4 linked regions of the Homo sapiens genome follow. The protein of the gene in region 2 interacts with the protein of the main gene of each other region in a pairwise test. Each region holds a gene or a part of one and is shown on either strand. Other genes may lie near its edges.

Region 1 (5,781 bases), on a different chromosome or scaffold from region 2:
TGTAAATGGTGATTTTGTGTTTGTCATACAAGGTATAAATTTCTAGTTATATAGATTTTGCCATTACTTTTAATGGCAAAAACTGCAATTAAGTAGAGTGATTAGTATTTTTATGTCCTGATGTCAGTACATGTACCCCATTTTCCCTATAAAATTATTTTGATAAATTATGCTGAGGAAAATTATCTGTAAGATAAACATAGCTTATGCTTACTCTGAACAGCCTGTTCGATTCCTCTGAGTCTGGCATAGGCAGTATTTATATCCAGAGTAAAGTTGTCAACTTGCTCTTGACTGAGACGACGAAATTGTAATTCTTGTTCAGAGAGTTTCTCAGACAGGTTCTGAAATAAAACAGAAATAGTTCCAGAAAAAAGTGATACTCAATGCATGTCATGTAACTGTGTAATCTTCCAGCAACTACTTGCTGAAGCAAAGAGGGCCTTAGAGTTGTCACGAAATTCCTACATTTTGTGTAAAGTTTCAAAAATGTCCTGACTCATATTTGATGTATATAATATATTTTTTTTTTTTTTGAGATGGAATCTTGCTTTATTGCCAGGTTGGAGTGCAGTGGCACAATCTTGGCTCACTGCAACCTCCGCCTCCCAGATTCAAGTGATTCTCCTGCCTCAGCCTCCCAAGTAGCTGGGATTACAGGCATGCATCACCATGCCAATTATTGTATTTTTAGTAGAGATGGGTTTCACCATGTTGGCCAGGATGGTCTCGATCTCTTAACCTCGTGATCCGCCCACCTCGGCCTCCCAAAGTGCTGGGATTACAGGCGTGAGCCACCGTGCCCGGCCGATGTATATAATTCTTTACAGGTTTACTGATGGAACCTAATATTAGAGGAGGCATACCAAGAGAAGAGAGAAGGCTGTTAAAGTCAGAAACAAACTGCCAACTGTATTTTATTTTTGAGACAGAATCTTGCTCTGTCATCCAGGCTGGAGTGCAGTGGCACAACCTCAGCTCACTGCAACCTCCACCTCCCAGATTCAAACGATTCTCATGCCTCAGCCTCCGGAGTGGCTGGGATTACATGCATGCACCACCATGCCCAGGTAATTTTTGTATTTTTAATAGAGACAGGGTTTCGCCATGTTGGGCAGGCTGGTCTTGAACTCTTGTCCTCAAGCGATCCACCCGCCTCAGCCTCCCAAATTGCTGGGATTATAGGTGTTAGCCACTGTGCTCAGCCACAAATTGTCAGCTTTAGAAAGTAAATTATCTGTACTGCAAACCTAAACATAATAATTAGATTAAATTATATTCTAATATCTTGTATTTAAGAGCTTATACATTAATTTTTCTCAGAAAAATATCCAAATAGAATTTAAAATACCTTTTCATACTGACATACATCGCGATTCTCTGGAAGATTTTACTTAGAAAACCTCAATATCTTCTTGCAAGACAAAGTAACAAGTTAATATTACTGTAAATGATTTCTTGAATAGAAACTATGATTACAGGCATCCTGATAATTTACTGGGATTTCAAAACTTCTCTGGGAAATTACCTCAGTTATAAAAATCTAAGCAGTACCATGCCATCTATAGGAGGAAGATACACATGTCAAATATTACTGTCTGCATTCCTGAAATCCCCTTTACCAACTCTCCTTAAAGCTCTGAAGATTCCAAATGACTAGAATATATATTTTAAAAACACATCTGATCATGAACACACAGGTACACCATTATGTAAAAAGAAGCAGTTTTGTAGACATACAAGGAGATTTCCAAATCTTCGACATCCTCAGAGTACATTAAAAGGAAAGGAGAGTCTCTTAATCCTGTCAGGAAGAGGGGTGTGGCTGAAGGGAGTCCAGGTCCTCACCTGCTCAAATTCAGACTTCAATTCCTGTTCTTGTACCCTAAGGACATCTCGCAAGTGATCAGTGTGGGCAGCTGCCTGTCGGCGAAGCTGGGTTCTCATTTCATTTTCCATGGCATCTCTGACTTCTTCTATCTGTGAAACCAAACATAGTAGTTATTAGTTTTCAATTCTCCACATATACTTTTAGGAAAACAGAAAGACCACTATCAACCATGACAACAGCAGCTTCCATATCCTGAACGCCTCTAATGTGCCAGGCATGTGTACACTTCTACTTCTCATGTGAAACGGAAAACTAAACCCTGGAAGGTGATTCAAACAAGATCACACAGCTGTGGCAAAAACCAGATTTCAAACAAAGGTCTCTCTCACCCCCAAACTTGTGGTTTTTCCACATCACCAGGCTGCCTCTCATATAAAACACTGCCATTTCCTGAATCACATGCTCCTCTGAGAAATAACTAAATCCAGGATATGAAAAAAAGTAACTATATACTTGGAATCAAGCGTAGCTTTACTACAACCATCTGTGTGACCTTGGGGAAATGATTTATCTTCTCAAATCTCCACTTTCTCATTTGTGAGTAATAATGCCTACTTTGAAGAATCATTAAGAAAATTAGTTGGCCGGGCGTGGTGGCTCACACCTGTAATCCCAGCACTTTGGGAGGCTGAGGCAGGTGGCTCATGAGGTCAGGAGATTGAGACTATCCTGACTAAAATGGTGAAACCCCATCTCTACTAAAAATACAAAAAAAAAATTAGCCGGGTGTGGTGGCGGGTGCCTGTAGTCCCAGCTACTCGGGAGGCTGAGGCAGGAGAATGGCGTGAACCGAGGAGGCAGAGCTTGCCGTGAGCCAAGATTGCGCTGCTGCACTCCAGCCTGGGCGACAGAGCAAGACTCCATCTCAAAAAGAAAAAAGAAAAGAAAATTAGTAAGTATCTGGTAGTTATTGACATAGACTTGACATAGACTTCTAAACAAAGAAAACTGCTTATTTTTAAATGAATTTAAATTCAACATGGGCCAAAAAAAACCAAAAAATATACCTTGCCTAACAAATAGCCATAGGTCACTTTACAAATTACTTAACACTGATTACCTGAAATCCAGAACTTATTTTTTCTCAGAAACAATATAATAAATCAATGAATCCATTCAGTCAGTGCATAAGTATTTATGAAGTGCTACTAGCCCTGTGTGCCAGGCAGTGCCTACTATCTGTACGGATCCAATGGTGCTTAGGGCAGACGAACTTCTTGCTCTCACAGTGTATATCTCAATGGAGGCAGCAGACAGTAAACAAAAAAGACATCTGAGATTGTGATACATATTTCTACATATGACTGAGCAGGCAAGGACCTGTTGTGAAGCATCAACACCCCTTCAACCTCCTTTTCCCCCACCTTACATTTAAAATAAACAGGGCAACATAACAGAAAGTAATACAGAGACTCTACTTTGGACTGAAGGGATAGGAAATCTCAGTCTTGCTAACAAAGTGACATCTAGGCTTAAAACTTAAGCTTAGAGCTCAAGGTTTAAACAGAGAGGATAGAACAATGTACTAGGCAGAGAAAACATAAAGGTCCCAAGACAAAAGATATAGTCAAGGTACAGACAAAAAATACCAGGGTGCCTGGAGCAGTGAAATGGCTCATGGCATGCAGTGATCAAGAAGCCTTTTGGGTACTGGTTAAGAATTTGGAATTATATTAAATGAAATGGGTAGTCCATGGAGGATTTCCAGCAGTGTAGTGTCTGATTCGACTATGTTTTATTTGCCTGCGTAAATAGACACAGAAAGAAGGGTATGAAGAAAGGGCAAATTGGCTGGGCATGGTGGCTCACACCTGTAATCCCAGCACTTTGGTGTTTAAATTCCTTGGGGAAGGCCGGGCATGGTACCTCATGCCTGTAATTCTGGCGCCGTGGGAGGCCAAGGCAGGTGGATCACTTGAGGTCAGGAGTTCGAGACCAGCCTGGCCAACATGGCAAAACCCCGTCTCTACTAAAAATACAAAAATTAGCCACATGTGGTGGCATGCACCTGTAAGTCTAGCTACTCAGGAGGCTGAGAGGCACAAGAATCACTTGAACCTGGGAGGCAGAGGTTGCAATGAGCCAAGATTGCACTACTGCACTCTACCCTGGGCCACAAAGACAGACTCTGTCTCAAAAAAAAAAAAAAAAAAAGAAAGAAAAAGAAAAAATAGTGGAAGCTGTTAAGATGACAGCTTGGGCTAAGGTGGTAGTAATGGAGTGGACAGATTTGGGATTTATGTTGGATGCAAAACTGGTAGGATCTGTGGGGCAACTGAATATGAGTTGATGGAGGAACAACAAAGCATGATTTGGGCTGGAATAGCTGAGCAGATTGTTCAACTCAGTTTATTTAGAGAGAAACAAGTTGAGGGGCTGGAAGACAGGTTGGAGAGAATAAATAAATCTGTTTGGAGCATGATAAGCATGAAATGACTACTGAAAATCAAGCTGGAGATACCAGGTAGGCTGCTGGATAGGAACCTGAAGCCAAGGCAGAGGTCAGAGCTGGAGATAGACATTTATCAGGTATAGATGGTATTTAAACTTCCAAGTCACGGGACTCAACAAGAACACTTAGAGACAGTTCAGATGGAGAAAACGTTTCAGAACTAATGCCAGGTATGCCACCATTTGAGAGGCTGAGCAGAAAAGGAGGTTAAGGAGTGGCCAGCAAGGTAAGAGAAAGGCCAGAAGAGTATGGTGTCAGGGAGCCTAGGGAAGAAATAGTTTCAAGAAGGAAGGAGTGGCCAGTAGTACTGCTAAGAAGACACAAAGGTGGGATGAGTAGTTAGGTTCCCAAATCAGCCTGTGGACACCTATTTAATAAATGGTGTGCCCAGACAGAGGGCTAAAGAAGCTATTTCACCTGTTTTTTAACCACCAACCACTTAACAACAATAGCAGAGAAAAATATACTCAGACTCCAACAAAGATTCGTTCAGCACTGCTTTAAGGGACAGAGGCTCAGCTCCACTGGAAAGATGAGCTAGATAATCCTGGATACCAGTAGCTTATTCCTTTCTTACACTTCTGCATCTGCTCAACATAAAGGAACTCTGCTCGATCACTCCTTTCCTAGAAGTTCTGATGAGGGGAATGAGGACCTAAGCTCCATTCTAAAGGTCAGCTGGCATGACTTATATTCAATATCCTAAAGCCAATGACTGTCAGTATTTTTTTTTTTTTTTTGAGACAGTCTTGCTCCATCGCCCAAGCTGGAATGCAGTGGCACGATCTTAGCTCACTGCAACCTCTGCCTCCCTGGTTCAAGTGGTTCTCCTGCCTCAGCCTTCCGAGTAGCTGGGATTACAGGTGCGAGCCACCACACCCAGCTAATTTTTGTATTTTTAGAAGAGACGGGGGTTTCGCCATATTGGCCAGGCTGGTCTCGAACTCCTGACCACAAGGGATCCACCCACCTTGGCCTCCCAAAGTGCCGCGATTACAGGCATGAACCACTGCACCCGGCTGAGCCAGTATTATTTCTACAAGTAAACAATCAAGTTAGAGTCACTTTAAATGTTAGGCAACAATTCTCATTTCTCTTACCTTTCTGTCCTGTTCAGCCTGTATTTCACTTCTGTGATGTTCTAATGCTTTTGCTACTGCAGAGTCAAATGCCCGCTTTTCTTCCAGCTTTTGTTTCTCCAAGGCTAACGTGATGTGCTGCTTTTCGGTGGCCTTCTGTTCTGCCAGCTCTCTGTTCAGCTGATCAATACGACGATGTGCATGAGCAATGAGGGAGTTCAGATCATCAGTAGAGAGCTTGTCAGCTAAGCAAAAGAGCATGTTAAAATATTAATGATGTCACTGAAATTATACCTCATTACAAGGTAATCTGCATCAACTGATTATAATTTAAGAGCAGTAAACGAAAGTAAAACTTA
Region 2 (5,781 bases):
AGACTTAATCAGTGGTTTCTAGAGCAAGTGCTGAAACCCAGATCCACTGGCATGCAGGGAGGAAGCATATGAATGTCTACACCTATTTTAAAGATGGCATCCTTTCATAAATTTATTTTGTATATGGTTGCCCATAAATTCTACTTCCTTATTTCTTTTATGCTCCAACATACTGTAAAATTGCTACTGAGCCATTCCACTGAAAATACTGGCACTGATCCAATTAATTCAAGCCCCTCCTGACTCAAACACATCCTTACCTCGAACTTTCTTTCTCAGGAGCAAGGAGAAATAACCACTCCTTAAAATTCTTCTATCCCAAGTTCTAAGGACACATTTCTCTCTCTGCTTTCTTCTCTCATCTTCCTCAACCTTCCTCCTCAGTCTGGCCAGATTCTTCCCTTCTCTACATACCCCCTGACTCCATGGGGGATCTGTCCTGACCTTTTTTTCACTTTACCCAGTCTCTGGGTGGTCTATGCCCAGGGTTTCACCAAGAGGCCACTGTCCTAAGTCCTTACCTCTAGCACTGCCTTCTCTTCCAAACATCAGAACATGAAATGCCTACTAAACTCTGTCATTTAGCTGTCCCATGAAGTCTGAGGCACTCAGCACACCCAGAACAAACCTAATTCTCACCCAGCATCAATCCGCTTGCTTCTTCTTATGTTCTCTCCCTGACACCAAATTTCTTGCTGTGACACACAGGTTATCTGTGACCTGGCCTTGCCTCTCACCACTCCCCCAGCCATGCTGAATAATTCTGCACTCCTGTATCTACCAAGTTCTTTCTCATTTCTGTGCTGTTTTTTCCTCACATGGAACAGCTTCTCCTTTCCCCTTTTTGGGCTGGCATTCCCTCCAAGTCTTAGCTTGGTATCACTTCTGGGAAGGCCCCTTGGCCCCATCTAGGAGCAGTACCTACTCTGAGTTCTCTCATCCCTTTTTTTTTTTTTTTAATAGACACGGGGTCTCTGTGTTGCACAGGCTTTCTTGAACTGCTGGCCTCAAGTAATCTGCCTCGGCCTCCCAAAGTGCTAGGATTACAGGGATGAGCCACCACACCCAGCCTCATCCCCTTCTCTTCTTGCCCTATCATACTGAGCTGTCACTGTCAACTTATGTCTCTCCTACTAGTGAGCTCCAGGAGGACCAGAATGGTCTTTCACCCTTTTATCCTCAGACCCAGCAGGATTAGCTCACAGCAGCAACAAATGTTTGCTAAACCAATGAGCAAACACATGCTAACAGTGAAAAATACTTATGACACTGTTTCAAGGAAGACTAGAATGTAAAGTTGCCTATATGCTATAACTTTATTTTAGATGTATATGGATTGAGGAAAGAACTCAAATACCTTTTTTTTTTTTTTTTTTTTTGAGATGGAGTTTTGCTCTTGTTGCCCAGGCTGGAGTGCAATGGTGCGATCTCAGCTCACAGCAACCTCCGCCTCCCGGGTTCAAACCATTCTCCTGCCTCAGCCTCCAGAGTAGCTGGGATTACAGGCATGCGCCACCATGCCTGGCTAATTTTGTATTTTTAGTAGAGACAGGGTTTCTCCATGTTGGTCAGGCTGGTTTCAAACTCTGGACCTCAGGTGGTCCGCCCGCCTCGGCCTCCCAAAGTGCTGGGATTACAGGCATGAGCCACTGCGCCTGGCCCTCCATATCTTTTATAATTCTGTTTCACTGACTCTATAATATTCTTTTTTTTGGAAACGGTGTCTCACTCTGTTGCCCAGGTTGGAGTGCAGTGGCGTGTGGCGTGATCTGGGCTCACTGCAAGCTCCGCCTCCTGGGTTCACGCCATTCTCCTGCCTCAGCCTCCCTAGTAGCTGGGACTACAGGCGCCGGTCACCACACCCGGCTAATTTTTTTGTATTTTTTTTAGTAGAGATGGGGTTTCACCGTGTTAGCCAGGATGGTCTCGATCTCCTGACCTCGTGATTCGCCTGTCTCGCCTCCCAAAGAGCTGAGATTACAGGCGTGAGCCACCACGCCCAGACTTAATATTCTAATATTCAAAATACAACATAGCTCAGGGAGCTATGGTGTTTATGGCATAATTCTGCAAGGGGTTCCCTAGGTCTCAGCTGAAATAGATAAAAATCAATTAGGCCGGGTGCGGTGGCTCACGCCTGTAATCCCAGCACTTTGGGAGGCCGAGGTGGGCGGATCACGAGGTCTAGGAGTTCAAGACCAGCCTGGCCAATATGGTGACACCCCATCTCTACTAAAAATACAAAAATTATCCGGACATGGTGGCTCGTGCCTGTAGTCCCAGCTACTTGGGAGGCTGAGGCAGAAGAATCATTTGAACCCAGGAGGCGGAGGTTGCCACTGCACTCCAGCCTGGGTGGCAGAGTGAGACTCCGTCTCAAAAAAAAAAAAAAAAAAAATCAGTCAATTATTAGCCAGGCATGGTGGTGCATGCCTGTAATCCCAGCTACTCGGGAGGCTGAGGCAGGAGAATCACTTGAACCTGGGAGGAAGGGGTTGCAGTGAGCCAAGATAATGCCACTGCACTGCAGCCTGGGTGACAGAGTGAGACTGTCTCAAACAAACAACAACAAAAAAAATCAGTCAATTCTCCTGACTCTAGGATCAAGACAGCTGTACTCACGGTACCTTATAAATGGCTGGTGCTCAACATATAGTAGTTGAATAAACAAACTTTCTTTTAATCAGTAGTTCCCAAACCTGGATGCTCATCAGAACCCCCTATGGAATTTGTAAAAATGAAGCTCCCTGAAAAGCCCACTCCATTCACATCTCTCGAATCAGAATCTCCAAGTGTTTTCTTTTACCTTGGCCAGTTAAATGTGTGAGGCTGCTTAGTGGATTGATGTTCAGAAACCGGCTTTATACAAATGTAGGTGTTCACTCAGTTTCACATGATCAACAACGTAGAGTAAAAGCACTCTGCTAGATACCGTGGGGAATAAAGATCAATCAGGGTTGGACCCTGCTAAAGGGATAAGATCAAGTGGGCAGGAGTGGATTCCTAAAACCTCCTACACCTCCTCTCCTCTACTGGCTTTTCTTCTTAATGAGCTGAGAAGACTGAAGTGGTCTGAAGATAAATGCCGCTCCACCCCGAGCATTGCTACAATAGCCTCTGTCTTCCCACCTATCGCCAGCTCCTCTTAGAGCCAAGCCTTGATTTATGCCCCGGAGCCCACTTCCTTTCACCTTCTCAAGGACATCATTTCAAGAATTCTCCCATCTTTCTCCTATATTATCATTTTTAAATTTATCCGTTGCATCATTTCCATTGGCATGCTAACATACCTTTATTTTCTCTCAGCCTTTTAAACCCTCTAGGCTCCCACCAGACATATTTGGAACAACTTGAGCACTCACAATAATCATTGCCCTAACTAATAATAAGACAACCAATACATTAAAACCTATAATTAAAGCCTATAGCGATGCTCAGAAAAGAGGAAGAATTTAATTAATTTACTTGAGATGGAGTTTCGCTCTTGTTGCTCAGGATGAAGTGCAATGGCACAACCTTGGCTCATTGCAACCTCCACCTCCTGGGTTCAAGTGATTTTAGTGCCTCAGCCTCCCAAGTAGCTAGCATTACAGGCATGCACCACCACGCCCTAATTTTGTATTTTTGGCAGAGATGGGTTTCACCATGTTGATCAGCCTGGTCTCGAACTCCCGACCTTAGGTGATCCACCCACTTCTGCCTCCCAAAGTGCTGGGATTACAGGTGTGAGCCACCGCACCCGGGACTCTTCCTTTTTTTTTTTTTAGATAAGAGTCTCACTCTGTTGCCCAGGCTGGAGTGCAACGGCGTGATCTCGGCTCACCCAACTTCCGCCTCCCAGGTTCAAGAGATTCTCCTGCCTCAGCATGCCAAATAGTTGGGATTACAGGCAGGTGCCACCACGCTCAGCTAATTTTTTTTTTTTTTTTGAGATGGAGTTTCGCTCGTTGCCCAGGCTGGAGTGTAATGGCGCAATCTTGGCTCACCGCAACCGCTGCCTCCCGGGTTCAGGTGATTTTCCTGCATGCGCCACCACGCTCAGCAAATTTTGTGTTTTTAGTAGAAACGGGGTTGCTCCATGTTGGTCAGGCTGGTCTCCAGCTCCCGACCTCAGGTGATCCGCCTGCCTCGGCCTCCCAGAGTGCTGGGATTACAGGTGTGAGCCACTATGCCTGGCTTTCTGATTTAATATTTAAAAAGCTATTAAACAGTTTGGGGACAACTGGGAAAATGTAAACCCTCACTGGATATCACATATTAGGAAATAGTTAATTCTAACAGATAGGATAACTGGGTGTCTTTTTTTTTTTTGAGATGGAGTCTTGCTCTCTTGCCAGGCTGCAGTGCAGTGGTACGATCTCGGCTCACTGAAACCTACACCTCCCAGGTTCAAGCGATTCTCCTGCCTCAGCCTCCCGAGTAGCTGGGACTACAGGCACGCAGCACCACGCCCAGTTAATTTTTCTGTTTTCAGTAGAGATGGGGTTTCACCATGTTGGCCAAGATGGTCTTGATCTCTTGAGCTTGTGATCCGCCCGCCTTGGCCTCCCAAAGTACTGGGATTACAGGCATGAGCCACCATGCCCAGCCAACCGGGTGTGGTTTTTATTTTATTTATTTTTTATTTTTTAGGACAGAGTATCGCTCTGTCGTAACACTCACTGGATAATACATAATATTAGGAAATCATTAATTTTCACAGACATAACTGGGTGTGGTTTTTATTTTTTGAGACAGAGTATCACTCTGTTGTGACACTCACTGAATAATACATAATATTAGGAAATCGCTAATTTTCATAGATAGGATAACGGCGTGGTTTTTTTTTTTTTATTTTTTGAGACAGAGTCTCGCTCTGTCGCCCAGGCTGGAGTGCAGTGGCACAATCTCGGCTCACTGCAACCTCTGCCTCCCAGGTTCAAGCACTGCTCCTGCCTCAGCCTCCCAAGTAGCTGGGACCACAGGCATGCACCACTATGCCCAGCTGATTTTTGTATTTTTAGTAGAGATGGGGTTTCTCCATGTTGGCCAGGCTGGTCTCAAACTCCTGACCTCAGGTGATCCGCCCGCTTTGGCCTCCCGAAGTGCTAGGATTACAGGTGTGAGCCACCGCGCCCAGTCTGGTTTTTATTTTTTTATTTAATTTTTAAATTTTATTCTAGTTTCAGGGGTACATGTGTAGGTTGGTTCTATAAATAAATTGCGTGTCTTGGGGCTTGGTATACATATTATCTCATCACCCAGGTAATAAAAAATACAGAAAGCTTCACAAATTTGTGCCATCCATGTGCAGAGGCCATGCTAACCTCTGTATTATTCAAATTTTAATATATGTCCTGCTGAAGTGAGTACTGGATGTGGTTTTTAAAAAGAATTTGTGTATTCTTAGGAGACGCATGTTAAAATATTTAAGGATTAAGTGTCACGATATCGGCAACCTACTGTGAAATGGTTCAGAAAAATAAAGATAAAGCTAATCTGGCCAACTGTTAACTGTTGAATGTAGGTTGCAGCTATATTAGTGTTTATTATGGTTCTTTCAACTTACTGGTAAACTTAAAATTTTTATTTTAAAAAATTTTTTAGAGATACGGTCTCACTCTATTGCCCAGGCTGTAGTACAATGGCACCATCATAGCCTATTGTAACCTCCTACTCCTAGACTCAAGTGATCTTCTCCGCTGAGCCTCCTAAATAGCTAGGACTACAGGCATGTCACCATGCCAGGCTAATTTTTCATTTTCTTGGAGAGATAGGGTCTTGCTATGTTGCCTAGGCTGG
Region 3 (5,781 bases), on a different chromosome or scaffold from region 2:
ATATTCTTACTCTCCAGAGTTCCAAAATCCTTTATTTTTAAAGAAAAATAAACAAACATACTTCATTCTGCCCAGTATATTCTCTTGATCTGTACAAGCTACGATTTTAATTCTCTTTGGAGAGGAGGCATCTGTTAAGTTCGAATGGGGGATATTTCCTCATAACGGTCATGGCTGAGAGGCCAGGACAATTATCACTTAACGAAGGTCCTTTGGTGCTCCCTGTGCATCAGCTTCATTCACTGGGGTCAGGTTCTTAAGGGGTCTCTTCCACCAGTGTGCTAGGGAAGGGCTGCCATCACCTCTGTTTAACACATAGCTACTTTCTTAAACACAATAAGCTTAAAAAGATGACTATGGATTTACAATGGAGGGCACTATAAGCCTCTCATACTTAAAACAGATCAATATAAAACAAGTAAACATGAAAACACCAAAACACAGCAGCAAAAAGATTTAGCAATCAATGTTTCTTTCTGCAAAATGCAAAATTAACTTATTTAGCAGTAGAGGACTAAAAAGGAAATCAGTTATACCAAGGGGAGACACGTGCCCTTGGTACTATGACCACTAGGACAGCATTCATATTACACCACAGTGACTGCTTTCAAAGCTCAAATGATTGTCAAGCCACTTCTCAAATGACAGATAATTTCTGTTGTTCTTTTTTATACAAAATGTTAAGACAACAGGCTTGAATATACAGCCTAAGCACCAATTATGATAAATGCATATTGGTAAAATGTGACTTCTGGCTTTAAAAGACATTATTGACCTCCCTGGGGCTAAAGATTGCACCCATGTGAGTAATACACTGCTAAAGAATAATTCATTTTTTAAGATCTATAGAGGTTCTCCACTAGGCACAATTCATTGCTGAAGTTGGATCATGCAACAGTTTTACAAGAGAAGTAGGAAAACATACGTATACTGAATATAGTGCATATCACCATGAAGACTTTCAGCATGTAAGATTAAGACAGGACAGTGCTTTAAAACACTTGCATGGATTTGGGTTTGCCTATTCAAATGAAAGGGAATTCATTGAGATTTATATGGAAAAATTCCATGTTGGGGTTAATGGCCCACCACTCTGAACTGAGTCCAGTAAGAGCTTGAGGAATTTGGCTTTGTTAGTACAGACCTTCTCCTTGCACTCCTCTTCTCAGTATTCAACAAGCTGTCTTTGTTTAAAAATATGCAAAATGCACTGATTTTTGGAGTGGTTCATGTGACTTTTACTGCTCATTTTGTTAAAAATTCTGTCTTAAGTTAGAAGGTATTTTTTGCTTTCTTTTCAACATCTGAAGAACAATGCATCACACTTGGGAAAAAAACATTTCTTCACCTTATAATTGGTAATGTGCTACAATTACCTTTTAATTAAGATCTGAGCCTTTTACAAGTAGATTTTCTTCACATACTTAAAATAGATCGAAACTCTGTCTCAAAAAAAAAAAAAAAGATAATGAAGACTAAATGTTGATTCTGTATTAACAAATGGAGGCAGAGGAGAGTAAATGACTCTAGGGCAGACTTGCCAAACCCTAGCTTGGAGGGAGTCCCATATTGCCGTTCATGCAGAAAGCAGACACTATCATTAGTCTGAGGACTAACCCTAAAGGGGCCACACCCATTAAAGCTGAGGAGTGTCCAAATACCAGGGCAACAAAACGTCATGGCAAATAGTCTTCTCCAGATATGAAAACCCAAGACTGTGGTCTTCACATCTTTAATCCCCCAAATTCTTAAGTTGGTGTTCTGAGTCAGGACTCTATTTCAAAATAGGGTCTCACATCCAAGGAAATATGTCCTTCTGTAGAGCAGTTCTTACTTGACTATGCTTCAGGGAAAAGAGCAGCAGCATCTATAAACATACATGTATGTGTGTGAGAGTGTGTGTAATTTAAAAGGGGATCCAGAGCCCCTTCTTGATTATAAATTGGAAGTAACAATAGGCCAAACTGTCTCCTTAAATAAAACCACTGATACTAAAAAATTAAAAGATTAAACAGATCACAAAAAAATCAGACAGGTGGTGGAGAAGACCCCAAAGAGGAGTTACAAATTTAACACATTTGGGAAAGTAAAGATGACTTTAAAACAAACTAAAGATAAATCACAAACCCAAACTCAGCAGCCTAAGGGAACCTTCATAGGGGGAAACTAGGAGGCTCCAGCACTGTCAGGTCACACTCCTTTCTAGACTATGCAACCCTCTAGGGTTTCTTCCAGGGCTGTTGCATTGGCAGCAAAGCGGGACAGGCAGCAGTAGGCATGTGCTTTTTTTAAGTTTTTTTTTTTCTCTGCAAAGGGGCAATTATTCCTGGATAAGGCAAGATAATTGTGGTCACAAGAGAAGCAGCCAAATGCAGATCTGTTGAGCTAACAGGGGGAGTGTCTCAGTCAGTCTTTCCCAGCTTTGCAATCAGCTCATCACAGATTTTTGTCAGTTCTTCAATTTCTTGGTTCTGAAAGACAAATGACATAATTATGCAGGCCACTTTGTATTCTGAAATAAAGGCAAATAGAGTTAACTAGTCCCAAGTCTGGATCTACCCTACCCTAGACATCCTAATTCAGTGATTTTTAACTTTTCTACATCAGAGATGCTTTAAAGAAAAAAAGGCTACACACCTCAAAAAATGTACTCATAAAATCATGCTTAAATTGAGTAAAGGGTGAGGACAGTCACCAGCCCTCTGAAACTTGTCCATGAATCTCTTAGTTCCCCAATTTTCTTGTTATCAGAGGAATTATCTGGGGTACTTGTCAAAAACATAAGTATCTGGGTCTCACTCAATCCATTAGCATATCTAGGGATGCTGGAGTCTGAATCTCCCAGGGAGCACCGTTCTAGGGGCTAACAGACCCTGTGATAAAAACTCCTGCTCTTGATGAATGGATGGCACAGGTATGAGTACATAATTGGAAATGCAGTAAAGAAAATACACCGGAGACATATAAAAACGGAAAGCTAAAAATTGCTTAGTGAGAAACAGGGATTGTTGCTAGTCCTGGTTTTCATTTATCTATAGCAGTTTCTCAAAGCAGCCCTGCTGATGTTTTAGGATGGGTAAATGTGTTGTCAGAGGCTGTCCTGTGCATTGTAGGATGTTTAACAGCATCCCTGGCTTCCTGCACTAGATACCAGCAGCATCTCCCAGTGGTGACAACCAAACAAATATATCTCCAGACATTACCTAACACCTAACATCCCCTGGAGGGCAAAACTGCCCCCAACTGCAAACCACTGATCTAAAGCAATGAAGGGGGAAGATGGCTTCATATTAATATATTGCATAAAAAACAAAGAAAGAAAGAAAGGCAGTCTCATGACCCCAACTAGGAAGCTGTTCTGAACTTCAGTTAAAATGCAACTTCCTCTCTGCACCCTGCCTGTGGATGATTTCCACATGATGTGCTTGAAAATTTAATGGTTTGACTTGTTTGTTTCCACCTGGATCAGTTCAGAAAGGAGCTGGACTGAAATGTCTGAGTAGAAAGCCAAGGCCTCTTTCACCCAGATCTGTCATTAAGTGAGTCACTGCTGAGGAGGAAAACCAAACGTCTCTGTGGCCACCCAGATCAGGTCCCTTTCTGTACCTTCTGCTGCAGGGCCCTTTCCAGGGACTCCACCTTCATCTGCTCTTTGCGGAGTCCAGCATGGAGAGCTGCACTCTCAGCCTTTGCTTTTGTTCGAACCTGAGCAATCTCTTCATTGGCTCTGTTTATGGTGTTTGGGTGTAATAAAGAGACAAAAAGCACATGATTAGCCACTAGTCAAAGCCAGTCAGGATACTAACCACTGACATCTGTGAGGCACAGGCCTCAAAGAATTGACTGCATGAGAGAAAAAAAACAAAAATCGGTGACCTAAATAATTCCATTTTAATTTATAAAAATTCAATTTACAGACAACTTCAAAATTTGTATCTCACTAGCAAATGGTTTCTATAACAGTCTTAGATTTTTTTTTTTTTTTTAGACCAGTACAAAAGCAGACTGCATAATTTTGGAGACGATCACAGCTAGAGTTGGGATACTAACCACTGACATCTGTGAGACACGGGCCTACAGGGAATGAGTTTATTAATGAGATGTGAAAGGCATTCTTTTTTTTTTTTTTTTTTTTTTTTTTTGAGATGGAGTCTCGCTCTGTCACCCAGGCTGGAGTACAGTGGCGCAGTCTCGGCTCACTGCAAGCTCCGCCTCCCGGGTTCACGCCATTCTCCTGCCTCAGCCTCTCCGAGTAGCTGGGACTACAGGCGCCCGCCACCACGCCCGGCTAATTTTTTTTTTTATTTTTAGTAGAGACGGGGTTTCACCGTGGTCTCGATCTCCTGACCTCGTGATCCACCCGCCTCGGCCTCCCAAAGTGCTGGGATTACAAGCGTGAGCCACCGCGCCCGGCCTGAAAGGCATTCTTAAAAACCATAAATGTCAGTTGATGAACAGCCATTAAACTGATGAAAGGATGCTAAAGCCTCATTAGCAATCAGAGGCATGTAAATTAAAATGATAAGCTTTGAAAATTGATTGAATTGGCAAAAATTAACAAGGACAGTCCTGTGTGGGCCGAGATACAAGGAGACAGGCAGGCTCATGTGCCAATGGGCGGCTGAAAACTGGCGCTGCCTTGTGGCGGGCAATGTGGTAGTCACCAGGGCAATTTAAAGTGTACATGCCCTCCAACGCAGCAATGCCACTTTCAGTTATGTATTCACAGAAATACTCCCACCTGGCATAACAGTGAGTGCACAGGATGTTCGCTGTAGTGTTACCTTCAATGTAAAAAAGTTTGTAACTAAGTGCCCATCAATAAAGAAATGCTATAGTTCCACGACCTAATAAAAAGAATTAGATTCAGCTATATGTTCTGACATGAAAAAATGGTCAGGATATGCTATTAAGGGAAAAAGGAAATTTGTCTAATGTGATTCCAATATTGTAAATATTTTTTATAGTTCAAAATCATAGTATTTATAAAGACACAAAGAAACGACTAGAGGGATATACAATAAACCTACGTATAATATATAGAGGCATCTGTAAAACCTATGGAGAAGAATGCATAAGAAATCTAATACAGTACTATGGGAGTGGGAAGGGGACAGGGGAACTTCTGCTTCTACAGATAGAAATTTAGGCAGCAAAATGTACAAGCATGTATTACCTTTTAGTTAAAAAGTCAAGTTGGGAGGCCAGGCTCAGTGGTTCATGCCTGTAATCCTGCACTTTGGGAGACCGAGGCGGGCGGATCACTTGAGGTCAGAAGTTCGAGACCAGCCTGCCCAACATGGCGAAACCCCGTCTCTACTAAAAATACAAAAATTAGCTGGGCATGGTGGCGGGTGCCTGTAATCCCAGCTGCTCGGAAGGCTGAAGCAGGAGAGTCACTTGAACCCAGGAGGCAGAGGTTGCAGTGAGCTGACACTGTGCCACTGCACTACAGCATGGGTGACAGAGTGAGACTCTGTCTCAAAAAAAACCAACAAAAAATCAAGTTGGATAACACTCCCCAGGATAAACTCCAAATGTATTAGATTTAAGGATTAAAAAAACTAAGCCATAAAGTGTAAGTAAAACATGGGAGAATATTTTCTATCCAGCATGGGGAAGATCTTTGTTACTATGACAAAGAATCCAGAAGCTGTAAAAGAAATGACTAATACATTTCAGCACATAAAAGTAAATTTCTGAATATCAAAAAACACTATAGGTGGACGCAAAAGACAAATGATAAACTTGAAAAATTATTCAAAATTCTTATCACAAAGG
Region 4 (5,781 bases), on a different chromosome or scaffold from region 2:
GAATCAGGAAGATGTTGACAAAGCCAGTTCTTCTAACTCAGCATGCGAGACCGGGTCCGTTTCTGCGTTGTTTCAGAAGATCAAAGGCATACTCCCTGTTAAAATGGAAAGTGCAGAATGTTTGGAAATGACCTATGTTCCCAACATTGATAGGATTAGCCCTGAAAAGAAGGGTGAAAAAGAAAATGGGACATCTATGGAAAAACAAGAGCTGAAACAAGAGATTATGAATGAGACTTTTGAATATGGTTCTCTGTTTTTGGTAAGTAATATATATATATTTTTTGCATGCTTCAGAGAACTGTGGAGAAAACTGAGATGTGTTAGCATTTAGTTATCTATTAGTCAATAATATTGCAGAACCAGGTGGGCAGATTTACATTTAGTTGTTAATTCATTGTCTTGTCAGTACTGGGGTGTTAATAGGTTTCAATACAACAAAACTGCATATGGAAAAAAAAATCCTCAATTTCAGTATTTTGTATCAAGTATCACCGTTCCTTTTAATAGTGTGCTGAAAAATGAAGTTACTTTAATATTTTAGTATAATTAGTAGTTTAAGTGCCTGATACAATCAGGTTATATTTTATTTTTCTGAAAAAGTTGGGTTGTCAACTTTAAAATGTATTGGACAGCATTTAAGAAAGGGCTTGGGAGTGCTGGTAAACATGTCAACATAAAAATAACTCCTGGACTCTTGCGGAGGAGGCAGCTCTGGGAAGTAGAGCCCTCTTGTATGAGCAAGAGTGTTCTTGATTTTTCCTCTGACCGGCCAATAATGATTTTTGGCAAGTAATTTTTCGAGACCCAAAGATGAAAGGATTGGACCTAGTGGATGTGTGAAGCCTCTTGCAGCCTTAATATATTAATTCCTGGTATATAAAATAAAATCTTTTACTTATGTATAGTGAAAAACCAGTATGTTTTCCATAGCGCCTGTCTAAAATATTTGGGGGGGACCTAGAGAGTGCTGTTTAAAGAATAAAGAATTCACATGCAGTGTAAAGGTGATTTTCCTTTAAACATGCATGTGTTTTTGAGAATAGTGTGTAGAAATTGGTTTTCTGGGTTTTAAAAACATTTGACAGGCCACTGTTGGTCGTTGGGCATGTGTCCTCAGCCCTATTTTTGGCAGTGGGGACTTAGGTGTATTTTCAGCCCCAGACAGGCTGTCCTTGGGTGCCTGTCCTCTGGGCCAGGAAGGGAGCTAAGTGCCAGCGGAGAAAGGCAGGTGTGACACAGACAGCCTGTCCCTTGGAGGGCTCGTGGCAAGAGGAATGAAGCACATAGAATAGCAAGTGCAGAAGGGCTGACTTAGGTGTGTCTTCAGGGTGCATGGGGACCACAAGGGAGGGAATTGTCAGGTCCGTTTAGAAGACAAGGTTAGGAAAGACCGAAGATATTCTAGATTCTCTAAAACATCAGTTTAGACATGTTTGGGCTTTAACAACCAGTCTTCTCTATTTGGAAGAAGGGTACACCACAGTGATTTCTAAACTAATGAGTTCATCCGTTGTTTCAAAACTCAGATTTAGTTTTTAAGTTATCTTGAAGTCAAACTTAGAAAACCGATATCATTTATAATTTTAATTTTTTTGCAAAATTAAATTACAACATACTCTTAATTCTAATCAACATTCTTAGTTTGGCATTTACAGATATACATAGAAACACGATGTTTATTCTCTTGATTTATGGGAGACTTTTTTTGGTGTGTCAGTCCCCAGCTACCAAAAACTCTATCATAAAGTTTCTTTTTCTTTAATGACATTTGTCTTGAATTTAAATTGGTTGTGTAATTTTGAAACTAAAAGTTTTCCTGATTTGTGCATTGAGTCTTAGGGTTATGTTGCCCCTGTGCAGCTTGAAAACCTGTTTTTCAGGCTCCCGATGTGGTACTGAGGTAAGGATAGAATCATCAGGTTGAAATGGATCCTAGTATGTCTTGGAGAAACAGCACTTTTCGCCTCAGGAATCTGGCTGTTAGGATTCATAATTAGATATGAAATACTTTGTAAGTCTTGAAAGATTGTCCCATATTCGCATATGCTTATCAACTGGCATAAGGGACTCTTTTTTCTTTTTTGCTTTCTTTTTTTTTTTTTTTTTTTTTTTTAAGGCAGAGTCTTGTTCTTGCTCTTTCGCCAGGCTGGAGTGCAGTGGCAAGATCTCGGCTCACTGCAACCTCCGCCTCCCAGGTTCAAGCAATTCTCCTGCCTCAGCCTCCCAGGTAGCTGGGACTACAGGCGTGCACCACCACATCCAGCTAATTTTTGTATTTTTAGTAGAGACGAGGTTTCACCATATTGTCCAGGATGGTCTTGATCTCTTGACCTCATGATCCACCTGCCTCGGCCTCCCAAAGTGCTGGGAATACAGGCGTGAGCCACTGCCCCCGGCCTACTCTTTTTTCACGATCATGTCTGAAGCACAGTGCTCTCTAATTTTGCTAGTTTACCTCTTGCACATTTCCATGTCTCTGGGAAGGAGGACTGGAAAGTGTCTGGGCAGACCCTCATAGGCCACTGGCTTTGCACTTACTGTAGAGAGCTGAATGAATTTGCTGCGTGTTTTCCTGAAACATGAATGTCGGTTGGTCACTTCAGCAGCACTCAAAGGCTCTTACTGCCCTGGATTGACGAAGAGACCATGCTGGAGGGATGTTAATTTTCTTTTTCTTTGAGATGGAGTCTCCTCTCTCACCCAGGATGGAGTGCAGTGGCGCGATCTCGGCTCACTGCAACCTCTGCCTCCCAGGTTCACGCATTTCTCCCAAGTAGCTGGGACTACAGGTGCACATGCCTGGCTAATTTTTTGTATTTTTATTAGAGATGGGGTTTCACCACGTTGGCCAGGCTGGTCTCGAACTCCTGACCTCAAGTGATCCGCCCACATTGGCCTCCCAAAGTGCTGGGATTACAGGCGTGAGCCATCGCGCCCGGTCGGATGTTAATTTTTACTGTTGCTTTGTTGGCCTTGGCCTGCCTTAGGCCTTGAGTTTACTGAATCCCTAGACTGCCTGCAACCTCACAGCTCATTGGTGGTCAGGGTGTATCTGAATCTTTAGAAAAGTTCTTATTTGGAAGAAGGAACTTGATTTTTATTTGAAACGGGGCTAGATGTAGCTCCTCACAACAGAGGTTATGTGTTCATGATAGTGTGTGAGATAAAGGGAGTGGAGACTTAACCTAAAAGGAAAGGAATTGATATTTATTCAGTGCTTGCTCTGGGTCAGGCACTTTGCTCAGGTGCCTTAGTTATATTATGCCATTTAATGGGCCCTGTAACGCTCAGGTGCTTTCCATACATTGTTATTTACTCTTCCCAATAACAACAGGGCAATTGTTGTCGACATTTTAATACTTCAGCGAGGTCACTTAAAACTCACACAGCTGGTAAATAGTAAAATTGGGATTCACACTCAGAGCCCTCACTTGAATCCTGGCCTTTTCTGCTCCATACACCATACGGTTTCAAAATTTTTGGAATGTTGGCTCTGAAAGGCAAAACAAGTGATTTGCTGAAGATTCACTTTTGTAAATTGATGAGCAGTTTGCCTTACTTTTTAAAAGAAGGTTTTCTCTGGGAGGTTAACTTTTGGGTTGCTTTTTAAAAGAAGATTTTTCTCTGGGAGATGAATTTAGCCAGCTTTAATTTAACCTAGCCAGAGACAGAAGATCTTTGTTAGTTTGTGTACAGTCACTTGCTTTTCTTGGCCAATTCTGTATTGTTCTCCAGTGCCAAAACATGACCTCCAGCTGTTCTCATGGGTGATTGGCCTGCTAAGTTATTGTTGAATTCACCTAATGTATGAATTCGACTGCCATCGGCATTGGGCTTTATGTGTATCTATCGGAAATTAACACTTGAGATTTATTAAAGAAAGAAGAGTGATGACAGGGAACATGCTGCTTTACAAGCACGGATTTTAGAGTAGTTTCAAATTGTAGCTCCACCATTTACTGGGCAAAGTGACCTCTGGCAGGTTACTAAGTCTCTATTGAGCTCAGTTGTTCTTTGTGTCAAAAAAAGGGTCAAACTCTGTAATATATTTGAAGAGATTTATTCTGAGCCAAACATGAGTGACCAGTGGCCCATGACACAGCCCTTAGGAGATCCTGAGAAGATGGGCCTAAGGTGATCGAGGTACAGCTTGCTTTTACACATTTTAGGGAGACATAAGACGTCAATCAGTACATGTAAGGTATACAGTGGTTCTGTCTAGAAAGGAGAGACAACTGGAAGTGGAGGCAGCTTCCAGGTCACAGGCAGATTTAAAGATTTTCTTTCTTTTTCTTTCTTTTTTTTTTTTTTTTTTTGAGACAGATTCTCTGTTGCCCAGGCTGGGGGTGCAGTGGTGTGATCTCTCGGCTCACTGCAGCCTCTGCCTCCCGGGTTCAAGTGATTCTCTTGCCTCAGCCTTTTGAGTAGCTGGGATTACAGGTGAGGACCACCACACCCAGCTAATTTTTTTGTATTTTTAGTAGAGACTGGCTTTCCTCATGTTGGCCAGGCCGGTCTCGAACTCCTGGCCTCATGTGATCTGCCCACCTCGGCTTCTCAAAGTGCTGGGATTACAGGTTTGAGCCACCACCCCCAGCCTAAAGATTTTCTAATTGGCAGTTGGTTCAAAGAGTTAAAGACCTGGAATCAACAAAAAGGAATGTCTGGGTTAAGATAAGGAGCTGTGGAAACCAAGGTTTTATCATACAGATGAAACCTTCAGGTAGCCGGCTTCAGGGGGAGTTGATTGTAAATGTTGCTTATCAGACTTAAAAGAGTCTGTTCTATCAGTCTTAAGGTCTTTGTTGATGTTAATGCTGGTCAGCTGTGCCTGAATTCCAACCCTTCGGAGAGTATAATTATGTCTGACTCCCCCTTCCTTTCATATCCTGAACTAGTTTTTCAGGTTAACCTTGGAATGCCCTTGGCCGAGAGAAGTGGTCCCTTCAGATGGTTGGGGGGCTTAGAATTTTATTTTTGCTTTACATTAATGTAAAGGGAGAATTGCAAATTGTAGTTTGGTGTTGGAATTCACACTGTGAGTAAGGCTCAGACTCCCATTTCCTCTATGTAGAATAGAAACATTTATTGGGTGCATACTATGTATTATACATATGGTGATGATTGTTAGGATGTAGGGAAAAAAGAGACCCTGTCTGAGTGCCTAGTGCAGTGGGTAATACTGTTGCAGGAGTTTTTCTCAACCCATTTGTAAAACTTGCGATGGGGGTGCCCCATTCAGCCCGCCATGCTCAACCTCTTGCGGGCAGGAGTGTGTGGGCAAGTGAGTACAGGATCCAGCCAGCCACTTTGAGCACCGGCAGGAGCATGCTGTGTGCAGGCCCCACAGTGGTGCCCAGGTGGTGGTGTCTGTGACCCTAAAGCCCCAGAGGGCATGCTACAGTGCTCTCTTGGCTCCACCATCCATGGACACCGGTGTGTCATCAGCTCAGTGGGCCCTTTGCCTCACTGTGTGGGGCAGCTGCCCTCCAGTAGCGAGGGCAAAGGGTCAGTGTGATAACCTTTTTTGGGTACCCAAAGTTGGTGGGTCCCAAGCTCTTGTCCACTGTCCAAGAAGAATTGGGTCACATGGACACCTGAAGGATGGTGGAGGCAGATAATTTTATTTAGCAATGAAAGTGGCTCTCAGCAGAGAGGGTAGCTGAAGACGGGACAGGACGGGCAGATAATCTTCCCTAAAGTCTGGCCATCTACACTTGGCTCTTCTCCAAAGCTAAGCCATCTCTCCTCCAAAGTCCAGCTGTCTGTCTGCCATCC

The links.
Region 1: the proteins of STX5 (region 2) and IMMT interact in a two-hybrid assay, tested with the Homo sapiens proteins (one large-scale study listed by BioGRID and IntAct).
Region 3: the proteins of STX5 (region 2) and TACC1 interact in binary tests that used the Homo sapiens proteins (3 or more experiments, as listed by UniProt).
Region 4: the proteins of STX5 (region 2) and MTUS1 interact in binary tests that used the Homo sapiens proteins (3 or more experiments, as listed by UniProt).

What each region holds. Positions count from the first base shown.
Region 1 is NC_000002.12:86,145,854-86,151,634, forward strand, and holds part of IMMT (MICOS complex subunit MIC60), read right to left. Parts: intron 5,668-5,781; coding exon 5,444-5,667; intron 1,981-5,443; coding exon 1,849-1,980; intron 345-1,848; coding exon 215-344; coding exon of another isoform or gene 183-214; exon of another isoform or gene 1-182. UniProt on the Homo sapiens protein: Component of the MICOS complex, a large protein complex of the mitochondrial inner membrane that plays crucial roles in the maintenance of crista junctions, inner membrane architecture, and formation of contact sites to the outer membrane.
Region 2 is NC_000011.10:62,810,716-62,816,496, forward strand, and holds part of STX5 (syntaxin-5), read right to left. Parts: intron 1-5,781. UniProt on the Homo sapiens protein: Mediates endoplasmic reticulum to Golgi transport.
Region 3 is NC_000008.11:38,844,645-38,850,425, reverse strand, and holds part of TACC1 (transforming acidic coiled-coil-containing protein 1), read right to left. Parts: intron 3,728-5,781; coding exon 3,607-3,727; intron 2,472-3,606; coding exon 2,403-2,471; 3' UTR 1-2,402. UniProt on the Homo sapiens protein: Involved in transcription regulation induced by nuclear receptors, including in T3 thyroid hormone and all-trans retinoic acid pathways. Might promote the nuclear localization of the receptors.
Region 4 is NC_000008.11:17,748,198-17,753,978, reverse strand, and holds part of MTUS1 (microtubule-associated tumor suppressor 1), read left to right. Parts: coding exon 1-262; intron 263-5,781. UniProt on the Homo sapiens protein: Cooperates with AGTR2 to inhibit ERK2 activation and cell proliferation. May be required for AGTR2 cell surface expression. Together with PTPN6, induces UBE2V2 expression upon angiotensin-II stimulation.